Regions from separate parts of the Homo sapiens genome. Here regions 1 and 2 are each linked to region 3. Evidence: fine-mapped expression QTL. A gene starts in region 3. Each other region holds a variant in brackets. All regions are shown on one strand. Distances are between the middles of the regions. Region 1 overlaps COMMD10 (COMM domain containing 10). Region 2 has its middle 49 kb from the start of MIR12130. Region 3 holds the start of COMMD10 (COMM domain containing 10).

The links. PIP is the estimated chance that this variant, and not a neighbour inherited with it, causes the effect.
Region 1: its variant is the best candidate, but not a certain one, in a credible set for the expression of COMMD10 in whole blood (INTERVAL, PIP 0.54).
Region 2: its variant is the best candidate, but not a certain one, in a credible set for the expression of COMMD10 in lymphoblastoid cells (GTEx, PIP 0.66).

The regions. Positions count from the first base shown.
Region 1 is chr5:116,289,402-116,293,607 of GRCh38, reverse strand. It overlaps COMMD10 (COMM domain containing 10), which reads right to left. Exons shown (of 7, transcript NM_016144.4): 6 at 2,032-2,091; 7 at 321-1,157. The coding sequence ends at 1,119. Among named protein-coding and RNA genes, the nearest start is that of MIR12130, 36 kb to the right of the region's middle. The variant T/C (reference allele first, on the strand shown) is at 1,735.
Region 2 is chr5:116,302,341-116,306,584 of GRCh38, reverse strand. No RefSeq gene overlaps it. Among named protein-coding and RNA genes, the nearest start is that of MIR12130, 49 kb to the right of the region's middle. The variant C/T (reference allele first, on the strand shown) is at 2,420.
Region 3 is chr5:116,083,222-116,087,424 of GRCh38, reverse strand. COMMD10 (COMM domain containing 10) reads right to left here and starts at 2,400. Exons shown (of 7, transcript NM_016144.4): 1 at 2,332-2,400. The coding sequence starts at 2,372. RefSeq lists enhancers at 1,859-2,153, 2,447-2,606.

The DNA of each region.
Region 1 (4,206 bases), 210 kb before region 3:
AGAGATACTTAACAGTTGTATTTCCCAGATGCTTCAAATAAGAAATGTGCTTCAATTTCAATGGCTTTGCTTATTTAAATATAGGACATTTCTGAAATCAAATTTCTTCATGTGAAGCAAGTCATGTTTGAATCTCTCTCTTTTTGGAAACAATACAGAAATTTCATTCATAAAAAATTCAAGTTTTTTTTAAACAAATGTATGTAAATGTATTCATTACATACATTTTAACAAATGTACGTAAATGTATTCATTTACATACATTCATGGCATAAAATATACTATAATGTATATAATTAAAAAATGTACACTTCAACCAATCCTAAGACACAAAAATTTTATTGACAGAAATCAACGTATTTATGGAAAGAGAATATAAAAGGTATCTGATTCGAATAATGGTGCCCATTTAGCACTCATTACAATTATTTTATTCAAGACCTGATTCTGTCTCCCAAACTATAAAGTGAATCATTATTAATTTGCAGTATAAAGAAAAACACACAAAAACCTGGACTATTATTAAATCATTAAACTGAGAGAGAAACTGAAGTTGACAGAGAAGCTCAGACTGGAATTAACTGATACCATACTACTCACTATTTTACATTTCCTTCCTATATTATTTCCGAAGCAAAATATACTCATCATATTCAAATAAAAATGCCATAGTGTATTTGATTGTATATGGCTATTTTCTTAATTTTATTCATGTAATTACCAAAGCTCTGTATTCTACTAAGGTACACATCTTATCTTGTATCCATGGACGCTCCTTGATACATTATGGTATCATCCAGCAAGTAAAAACTAAGCAGGACAGGCAAGAAAGCAACACTATGACAGTAAAAACAATATGGTATTCACTTTTGTTTCCTTTAAAGGGAAAGTGTTCTTAATAATTACTGTTGGCTCACAGAACTAAAGAAAGTATATTAGAACCTCAGTATTCTTAACAATGATCTCTATTGGTTGTTATTTGTCTAAGAAGTGATAAGCCATATAATTTACAGAAAGCAAGTCACTGAATCCTTCAGAAAACACAACCTGGCAATGTATCTTCAATGCAAAATAATGAGGTGGCAGGAGCGTGATGAAAAAAACAGTCTTCGAAAACATCATGTAAGGGAATCCAGCTGTGCTTGTATAGTCTCTAGCTATTTACAAAGACAAAAAAAAAAAAAGACGTTAGTGAAGGGAACGAAACTCATATCAAGTGTTATTCAGACACATGCAAATAGAAAGGAAAAAATAGCACTGGTAACTATGAATATTAAATCCATTCACATAGCAATAAAATTACCACTTAGAATATTTTTCTTTTTAGGTGAAGATATTAGAATTTGTGCTTGAAAATTTAAGTTTTCAAATTTTCAAAGAAAGAAGATTTCTTAATACTGTTGTTTTAAGTGTCTTCAGCTGTTTCCTTTTAAATTATCACTCCATAATTTTTTTTTTAATGAGACATGGGGTTTTATTGGAGGCTTACATATGAGGGAGTGGGTACAGTGGTGGTGGGCTGAACAGGATAACCACACGCATGCTCCAGTGGCAGTACACTGGCAGAAGAACTGCCTACTTGATAATATTTTAAAGTTGGGGGGTGGAGGGAGTATATTTTCCTGGATTACAAAATCAGTCTTCAGAAAGAGACATGAAATATACTCACAGATAAATCTCTAAAGGCATGTTTCCCTTTACCCTTGGGCCCAGAAATTAAAGTATTTGACATTA[T/C]ATATATTTAAAGTGTCAGTGTGGCTAGGAATCACAAAGTTCATTACTTAATGTTTTATATTAAAGCAACAATCCTATTGCTTTAATTAAAACTATTTTCCTTTTCTTCCTGATTTAGTTTTTCAAATTCTCTTCATTTCTGCTATACTTCCTCCTGTGAAACATAAGGTCTTTTATAAGGGAAGTTTAAAGAACTTAGTTCCATAATATGACATTTAAAAATAAGAATTCATAAAATGAAACAAAATATTATGAAAAAAACTCCACATATTAGAAAATTATTTTAAAAATACAGACCTTGTTATAGAAATCAAACAACTCCTTGTGACTGAATTCCACAAGAACTTTCTCCAGGCTCTGTAAGGAAGAAAAACAACAAAAAGAATGTAGTTGCACACAATTTACATCACATTTTTTCTCTCCAGCTAACCTCAGAATATGACATAAGATTGTCCTCTGAGTGGTTTTAAAAAATGCTTACCTGCTCTACTCAACCCCATGATTCCTAGAACTCAAAAATGCACTTAATAACACTCTAGCAAAAGGTTTCAATTCTACAGACATCTGTCCTTTAAGTTGACTCTACGAAGGTTAATAAAACATATGCCAGTAAGAGAACAACTTTATTATCTAATTTTTTCAAGACAGAGATAATACATGAGATTATATTTCATCTTTCTCAGCAGTCTGTTTGAAATCTAGTAAATACCATTACACAAAGACACTGGAGGCAGGATATCTGATTGAACTCACCCAGCCATTAATGCCTCACATCAGCACAGCTACTGCCTCCAAGCACTAATCTAGCAGTTGTGATCTCAACATGCTGAGTGTTACCTTCTTCAATGTATAGACTCAGCAAAAGTTCACAATTAACACAACAGTTTCAAAGTCAGGACTTAAACACTCTCTTTCCTTTTACTTCACATGCATTAGAGAATCCTTTATGGGTGCTACAGATGCTAGGTAATATTGTATATGTATGTATGATGCTGTAGTAAAGTATGATATTAAACTAAACCCAACTCAACTCAATCCAACCTACTTTTGGTTGATTCTGTATACTGAGGAAACAATTCAAACAATTTGCTTAAGACTGCTCAAATGTGTTTATTTTACTCAAGGTCCCTCTGAAGAAGTGAAAGTTAATGAGGAGAAAATGCCAAGAATATGCTAACTGCTCTGATCACACTGCTGTAATCACATGACATAAAATGGGCATCATGAACTAAAGAAGTAGAAAACTGATGCAAAATTGAGCCACATGGTCATTTCCAACATACTGTTTATTCTAGTTCGCAGTTTCTATGTTCACTTTTATCTGTTTTAATGATTTCCATTTCTATTTACAAAGCCGACATTTCAAACCAAATTATCTCCAACTAATTCCAGAAGAGTCAATGGGGCTATGTTCAGAAAATGCATCTCACTCTTCATGAAGCTAAGTGTACAGGATCAAATTTCCATACTTCTTCATTTTCTCTCATATATCTAAGTACTTAAGCTTTAAAATGAAAAAAGAAGTACATCTGCTTTAAAGCCTCTTCCTTTAAGAATGATATAAAATCATGAAGTTTTTATACTATATTAGAAAAATTCATTGGCTGTCACACATCATTAAAGCTCCAAAGATTTAATCAGCATCATCTATACATAGTATATGCCCTCCTAGCAGTTAAGGAAGGATGATAAGCCTAGGTTTACCCTAAAGTTCTGAGAAAAGCAAGACAAGTTCATCACTCTCACCTCCATCCAAAAAGATAGGAGAGAATGAAGGCTGAATCAGCACGTAAACAACTGATCTGATGTACCCCTAAAGGTGGCAGTCAAGCCAGGTTCTTGTTTTCTATATTTTGCTTTGCTTTGTTTTAAGGTGGTGTTTCCTAAAATGTTACATTGAGGAAAGAGAAGAAATGTAACTTCGAAAACATACTTCTTAAAAGAACAATAGCTATAGGGGTAGACTAGAAAGCTAGAGGCCCTCTTTCCACCACTAAGGTACCAAGTTAACAATATACGGATCAGAATACCCTTGTGAGAACTTGAGAGACCAGTTGAGATGCTACAGCACCCACACCATTATAAAACCAAGAAGGAATTCCAATGAAAGTGGTAGGAAATGAATTTCACAGTGTTCAGTGTATTCATGCATGCCTCTCTCCCATGTGGAATAGCGGAGCAACCAAGAAGAACCCACCACCCCCCATGCCAGAGCTCCTCCCTCAGGACAGAAATAAAAGAATGAACCATACATCCAACATTCTGGCTTTCTGGGGGATTCCCAAGGAACTGGTTTCTGTATTAATTAAAGAAGGGCACTCACACGCCCAGCACCAGCGTTTGGAAGGCACTGAAAACAGAGGTGAGAGGCATATTAGAGCTGCAGTTCCACGGGCAGGTGCCAGAGGGAGCAAAATATCAGAAAACATTTGAGAGGCCCTAGAACTCCCAGCTGGGGTATTAGTGAAGGTC
Region 2 (4,244 bases), 220 kb before region 3:
TCACTGATTACCTTGAGGGGCGTCAAACCCCAAATCTAGCATATTTGACAGACTGCTAGCTGTTTTCCAAAAGGTAATAGCATTGGCAGGGGAATTTCTTGGATCCCAAACATGGACTCCTTTAGAACTACTAGGTAAAGGATAACCACATTTTAAGGTATTTTTTTTAACCACTTCCCGAAATGGCAGTTTGCATTACCACCCCTTCCTGCCCCACTTGGAGAAGCAATGCAATATGTAATGTCAAGAGTTTAGACTGAGGATTATAGAATCTGCTCTCTACTCTTGGCTCTGCCAAGAAGAGGGCTACATGACATGGGACAGGTCATTTGTCCCCTCTGAGCCTCAGAAGTGATTAGAGTACTCTGTATTTCCCTGGTTCTTTCTGGGTCTTTCTGTGTTGTTTTCATTCTTTCCTTCTGAATGTTCCCTTTGCTTGTCCTCTAACAGCAATGATTCACTCCGCCTCCCAGTTGGGGCCAATTCTGCTGTTTGACCTGCAGTTGGAGCCAGTGCTGCTTATCCCAGTCAACATTATTGATCAACATTACTGAACAAATAAGTGATCACATACATGAACAAATTTTTGACTCTTTCCTCTCAGCATGCTGGACCTCTCAGTAGGCTGTTATTACATCTCAACAAATAGGGGTGTTAAAATTAACTTAAATTGTGCTCAATTAATCAGAACTTATTCAAGACTTTTTGTGTGTCAGGCATTAAAATAGGCAGGTGCTTGTAGTGATGTGAGATATATGATAAAGTCCTACCCATAGGAAACTTTACCTTGTCTGTGACTTCACACCAACATTTAGTGAGTGCATCAACTGGGGTCCAATCAGGAGACAGGAACCAAACAGTGATTTAAATAAGGGAAGCTTAATATAAAGAATGATTAAGCTGGCTATGCACGGTGGCTCACACCTGTAATCCCAGCGTTCTGGGAGGCCAAGGCAGACAGATCACCTGAGGTCAGGAGTTCAAAACCAGCCTAGCCAACATGGTGAAACCCGTCTCTACTAAAAATACAAAAATTAGCTGGGCACAGTGGCACACACCTGTAATCCCAACTACTTGGGAGGCTGAGGCAGGAGAATCACTTGAACCTGGGAGGCAGAAGCTGCAGTGAGCCAAGATCACGCCACTGCACTCTAGCCTGGGCAACAGAGTGACAACCTGTCTCAAAAAAAAAGATTAAGCTATAAGAAAACAGTAACTATAAGATGTAAGAGAACTTTATAATGTTCCACAGGGCTGAGGGAGAGTGCTCAAGGAAGGATGGAAGGGGATCTTTCCTCAAGGCTCAGGTTCTTATCTGGTTGCAGAAGGTCTAGTTGCACTTCAATGGATGGAAGAGAGGTTTGCTGGCTTGCTCATGCCAGAGCTGGTTAACAGTCACTGAGTAAGAAGAAAGCTACTCTCTAGGAAGTACATGAGCCACAGCCAGATTGGGTATGCACAGATACTTTGGGACTATCACTGTTGGGTAGAAGGCTTGGCACTCCTAGTGTCCATGTCAGGAGGGCAAATCTGAGTGGCAGGGTACAAGTGAGTCACAACTGGTGAGGCAGGTGAGTGGGCATGCAGAGGGGCAAGAGGGCTAGAATTTCTAGTGTCTGTGTTGGGAGGGCTATGAGAAGGTGATCACTAGGATAGGTCAGGGCTGCAAGCTTACCAAGGGACTGTGTGCTCTGGCTGGGGCACAGTACCACCAGATGCACTCACACTCATACCAGTGACCAACAGTGCAGCTGCTGGAGCCTACAAGAGAAGTCCCTTCCTCCTGCAATATCCCTCCAGCACCCTCTACTTAGAAAGCTTAATATGGTGCTCACATAAAGGAGGACAGCTTAAAGGGATTCCAAACATTAACGGCAGAGAGAGAACTCAAGGGAAAATTTGGAGGGACAAAAATTGATAATTGGCACAGTGAAGTATTAAAAGAGCCTTAAACTAGGGATTAGACATTCTGAGTTCTAGTCTGAGTTCAGCTGTGTAATCTTAGGCAAGTGATTTAGGTGTCTTCGTTTTAGTTTGTTCATTTAGAAAATGGAAATAACACTTGTTCAATTAACTAAAGAATAATGCAAGGATCAAACGAGAACAAGCATATAAAAGGATTTCTATAAACTGTAAAGTGCTACACATTTCCAGTGGGTCATTGCTGTAGTAGTTGTATTCAGTTTTACACTTACCATCAAGCTGAGTAATGTTTAGCCTAGAATTAAGGCCAAAGAGATGAGCCCCTATCTTATTTCGAATCCCTGGCACCAAGCACACTTACTTAAACAAAATAAATAGGTTTGTCTTTCTTACTAGAACTACAGTTTAAAAAACTTATTTCTTGATGGATAGTCTCGTGAAGGTATTGCTGTGTCTACTCAATTATGACTAACCATAGTCTCTCAAGGGTGGCCCA[C/T]ACTAATCATTCTCCATTTTTCATCTTACCAGAATGCTGCTGGTGGAGTCAGCAGGAAAAGCCTTTCTGCCCCTGATCAACCTCTACCTGAGGACCTAAGGCAATGCTTTTATTGTAGATCCTGATATGCAAACAGAACTACAGCACTCCAGAAGTAACCTCATTTGACTGGCCTATTAGTTAATGGGTAAATACATGTGTAAATGAACGAATGACTAAGCAAATAGAGTTAACCGGCCAAGGCCGTGCTCAGCATCCTATTAGAATATAGTAATTATAAGGCTATCAAAAACCATTGTTCTTTAAATATAATGCCTTTTCACACACACACACGTGCATGCATGCACACACACACACCCCCACACACTCCTACCTCTGTCCATTTTTCTCCATTCCTTCCTCCACCTTTTCAAATAAATGAAGAAACCTGAGTATACATACAAAATAACTGTTGATTTGTGTATTTGCAGCATGAAACTCACAGTAGAAAATCCCAGGGTTCTGTCTTGGAATCTTGAGCACTGCTCTCTGAGATCTGGAGTCTCTCTCTGTGTGAAGGTTAAGCTCCTGATGGTCTCTGCCTGTCCTGGGACTGCTGTTGATTCATGCAGGGAGAGAGCCGAGAACAAGCTGTGGCTGAAGAGGGCAAAATATGAGGACATGCTAACTGGTTTGGGAAAGGAACCTCCTGACATCTGGCTCTCTGCCCCCACAACAGTGGTCAGGAAGGAGAAGCAGAAAGAGGCAAACAAGCTTAATGGCTCTGAAACATATCATTGGACATTTCAGAGCCCCTTGCAGGGAACTGAAATGTTGCATGTTTTTTAAAGCTAACTATCACTAATTTAATTTAAATAATTTTTTTTGTACTGCCTATAACACATTTTGTGGATGAGGTTCAGCAAAAAAAAAAAAAAAAAAAAAAAAAAAGACACATAAGATTCAGGTATGGTAAATGGTCCAAGGCAGAAACAACTTGGCATTGCAGAATCAGTTTCTTCTGCTTTTGATACACACTGGGATAGGTTAACTACTTCAGGGTGAAAATAACATACGGAAAAAGCCTTTAATTCATTCATTCTCCTGCCTCAAGCACATCTCATGGGTTTCATATGATGTAAATCAGTCCAACTTGCAGATGATCAAATACGTTTAAAAAAGGAGGCACAAAGGTAGGCCTGAAGCCTCTTGGACATCTGTTACTGGAGCACACAAGAGTAACTTGATTCGTCAGTTAACATCTCATCCTCTCTTTTTCTTGGTTTCCTACTTAGCTATGTTCCACTGTAAATGCTTAGTCTGCAAAGAGAGAAGCAATGTTTTCTATTGTTCTTTTCCTTCTACAAATGCAGCAAACAGCCAAAAGATAGAATCAAGCCAGGCTACTGAGGGCATATTCCATACCTCTTCACTTTCCTAGGGAGCTAGAGGGGGATGTTGAAGTTCAAGTTCTCACTCAGAAGTACATAGAGGAAGGTGAGTGTAAGGTCAGTTTCCACCATGCCAGGAACGGGGAGCAGAGACTCTCAATGGTCTATTGTGGCAGGAAGGTAACCAATGAGCCTTTGAAACTGACCCAGCAATGTCTTCCCTCTGCTTTCAGGGAGATGAAATTTTTGCTCATTTAGAATGGAGAGTTAGAAGTGTCAAGCAGGTCTTCTTTGGGAGTCAGAGTAACTGATTTCAAAGCCTTCTTCTCTTACTCGAGGCCTACTTGAGAATTGAAAGATATGAATGATACCTTTGATGTTTTTGCCCATAGCTCTCTACGTTTATCACTGAAAAATAAGACAGATCTGCTAAGACGACTGATAAAGGACAGAGG
Region 3 (4,203 bases):
AAGTTTTCATTCCAACAACTCTGAATGCTATATGGTAAATCTGAGTGAAATAAAAACAGATGACAGCCAGCAAAAAAGGCAGGGCAACGGGTACATTTCCAAAAAGATGCCCCCAAAATTACTTCTGCTGAAAAGGTCCATTTGGCAAATTTTCTCTTTCTTTTGGGCAAACCAAACTACTAGGGAAACCTTGTACTGCGCAGGGAAGAGCCTTAATTTAGTAGAGCGTTTATATAAACACTTAACCCAAAAATGGAACTCTGAAAGGGGTGGGAGGAGAGGAATAGCAATTATGGCAATTACACCAAAAACATAAAAGAATACTGCAAGGCAAATAACTTTTCAAATACTATGTACAAAATCATCTGGGGTCACTAAGCACACAGTTATTTTAAAACCCTGTTTCAACTGTAAAATCAAATTTATTATTACAACAGTAATCAATTTTGAGATAGGGTCTTACTCTGTCACCCAGGCTGGAGTGCAGTGGCACGATCTCAGCTCACTACAGCCTCTGCCTCCTGGGTTCTAAGAATCCTTGTGCCTCAGCCTCCCAAGTAGCTAGAACTACATGCGCGGGCCACAGCGCTGGCTAATTTTTGTATTTTTTGTAGAGACAGAGTTTTGCCCTGTTGCCCAGGCTGGTCTTGAACTCCTGAGCTCAATCAGTCCTGCAGTGGCTCACCCCTATAATCCCAGCACTTTGCAAGGCCAGGGAGGACAGATCACCCGAAGCCAGGAGTTCCAGACCAGCCTAGCCAACATGGTGAAACCCCATCTTTACTAAAAATACAAAAAATTAGCTGGGCGTGGTGGCGGGTGCCTGTAATCCCAGCTACTCAGGAGGCTCAGGGAGGAGAATCGCTTGAACACAGGAGGCGGAGGCTGCAGTGAGCCGAGATGGCGCCATTGCACTCCAGCCTGCGCAACAAGAGGGAAACGCCCTCTCAGGGAAAAAAAAGAGAGAGAGATTAGCCCGCCTCAGCCTCCCAAAGTGCTGGAATTACAGGCATGAGCCACAGCACCTTTCCTGTAATAATCAACTTTAAATGATGTGATGAGAACAATTCTATACTGCACCATATTGGATACAGTTTACTGATGTAGCGGTGTTCCCCAAGACACTGGTATGAGGAAAGAAACTGGCGATCAGAACCAAAGTGAGGCAGGAAAATAGGGTCAGGAGGCTGGGAACATAAAGCTGATTCCCACTTCAGCTATGACAAGAAATGTCCTCTCCATATGGCATAGGCGGAGAAAATGACTTTGTAACTTTACTTCATCCTCTTCATTTACATAGGGAGTACACCAAGTAACCAATGGAATCCTCTAGAGGGTATTTAAATTCCCAAAAATTCTGTAGGGGCCCTTCAGCCCCTATGCTCAAGCAGCTCCCACACTGTGGAGGGTAGTTTCATTTTCAATAAATGTCTTCTTCATTCTTTCCTCGCTTTCTTTGTGCGTCTTCTCCAGTTCTTTGTTCAAGACGCCAAGAACCTGGACACCCTCCACTGGTAACAAAAGGAATCCAGAAAGAAGGAAAAACTTTAAAATAACTCTTTTCTTCTGAAAGATTTCTACCCAATCCAAGCACAAAGAAATTACTTCCGAACACTATTTTGCCTATATACTTCAGTACTTTTTCTGTATCCACACGCTACCTGCACTATTGCTTATTTTTTCACAAATTGAGTCTTTTTTTACTTAAATAATGTTAAAGGGGAGCTTTATATCACTACCATGGACAACCAACTTTATCTACCATAAGTAGAAATTAACTAAAAATCTGTTTAAAATGCAAATAAAAGCAAATGCTACCAAAGCCAGGCTAGATTCTTCTACCAACCAAAAATTCGGTCCCCTATTCGATACTGATTTAAAAGGGGTATTAACACATGTTGGCTATTAAAGACCCTCCAGCAGCAGCGTGAGCCTTTCCCACCAGAGTGTCTGAACCGGAACTGAAATCGGAAACGGAATACCGTTCCACGTGATTCGGCAGCACTGAAGGCAGCACCCGGGAACTTCTGATACCAAACTCCGCGAACAGTGACGCAGACCCCACGCTTGCAGACCACACGCTTCCGTACAGACCTCAGCTGCCAGGCGCACTGTGAGCCCCACAGGTGGACCACCGTGACTGTAGAGGCGCTACACGGCCCCACGCACTCCGCAGACGCAGCGTCGCAACCTCGGCAGCCCACCCCACCCCACCCCACTCAACCGGGCCCGCCGCGGCGCCCAGGCGGCAGGCAGCAAGGACAGCCTTGTGCGAGCCCGATCTGGGCCTTCCTGGGCGCGGCTACCGCAAGAGCTTAACGGATCAGCTACCTGGGGCTCTCCCGTAGGATCAGCGCCGCGGGGACCGCCATCTTCGGCTTTCTCGCACTGCCGCCGTCTGTTAGCTGCGCCGAACCCAGCCAATGGCGGCCGCGGCGGACGGAAAGCCGGAAGGCCCAAGCCGCGCAGGGGCCGTTTTAGGGCTCCGGGTCTCCTGCGACCCGGGCGCCGGGAGACTTGTCCCGCAGTCCTGGAGGGCGGAGAGGGCAGCCCAGTTGCCCTCCCGACACTCCAATCGTGTTGGAGTTAAGTCTGTGCATATATATGTCTTTATATTTATATATTATATATGTATGTACATACCTGGATAGGGGTGTGTGTCTGTATTTAATAGGGCAGGTTTAAGCAAGTCTATGTACAGACCTGTATAGATATATGTGTGTATGTTCGTGCATAAATATATACATTATTATTTTTAATAGGGCAGGTTTAAGCAAGCCCGTGTATACATACTTGGATAAATGGTGTGTGCGTGTGTATATTTTTTTAATAGGGCGGGTTTAAGTGAGCCTGTGTGTACATACTTGGATAGGTGATTTGTGAGTATTTTTTTTTCCAGCGTTTGGGCTACAGAGAGGCAGGCATTTGAGCGAGCTCCCCCGAGCCTGCCCAGGAAGCGGCGCATCACCCCTCAGGAGAGGTGGTGCCTCCAGTTCCACCCTAAGCACTGTGCCGTCAACCCCTCCTGTATCTGCATCTGCAGGGCTTGTAGTATGTACGTTCAATTCCTTCAGCAACGTTCAATGAATGAGTGCCTACTGTGTACCAAGCACTGTTCTAGGCACTGGAGATACAAAAGGCCAAAATTCCTGCCCTCAGGGTTTGCCGGCAGTCTAAATGGACAAGTATTTGTTGCACCCTTCTTTAGAGTCTGACAGTGCAGAGTAGGGGAGATGAATCGCTGCAGTGAGTGATGTCAAAGACCTCACCCAAGACTAGGGAGACACCATGTTTGCATAAATACCTTGGTCTGCCTTTGAGAAAAACATGGAGTGAGTTAAAGGAATTCAGATGTGGGAGCAGTGAAAGGCATCCGAGGTAAGATCAGGAAAAGCTCCCTAGGGCAGGTGGCAAATGCGGTGGGTCTGCAGAGATGTGGAGGGTGAGGCTGTGTGTTTCAGGTCAGTAGAGTAGAAGGGCGGTTTGACGTTTGAAGAACAGGAATTTAGACTAGAAAAAGCCTTTAATGACTGGTTGTGGCATGTGCACTTAATCTGGTGAGAAATGGGTAAGCATTAAATGTTTTTTCTATCCATTAAATGTTTTGAACCAAAGAAATTTTGCAGTGGGAGTTGGATTTTTGAAGGTTGCTGTCAGCAGAATGATGATTGAAATGGAAAGAGGTAAGCAGGAGAGCTACCTGGAAACTACTGCAATAATCTATAGAAAGCAGTAAAATCCTGTGGTACTAAAAAGGCATTGGTGAATTAAAAGATAGTGGATGGATTAGTTACGTTTCAGCAGTAGAATATTCAAGAGCTGCCAAAAAATTGAATTTAATTTTCCTTCCTAATTATGTTTTACTTAAATTATTATTTAAATTAGTTGGAGTTCCTGGAGCAGCCCAAGAACAACCTAACTGAAAGGAGAAACCAGATTGCACATTAAATCTGAATAATCTCCACATGGATAATTGAGTCAATTATACAGTGTGTTGAACACATACAAATACATTTAGTTCCACAACACTCTACAGTCCCCAATGTATGCATATCTGAAAAAGATGTATGTGAATCTACATAAATTATAGGTCTCTGATCCAAACACAGATGACCTCATCTGCAACTTAAAAGGGTCCCAGTTCCCTCATTCTTTGAATCATTTCCCTTTTGTCTTGATTCCTTACCTGAAGTAGAACCACTA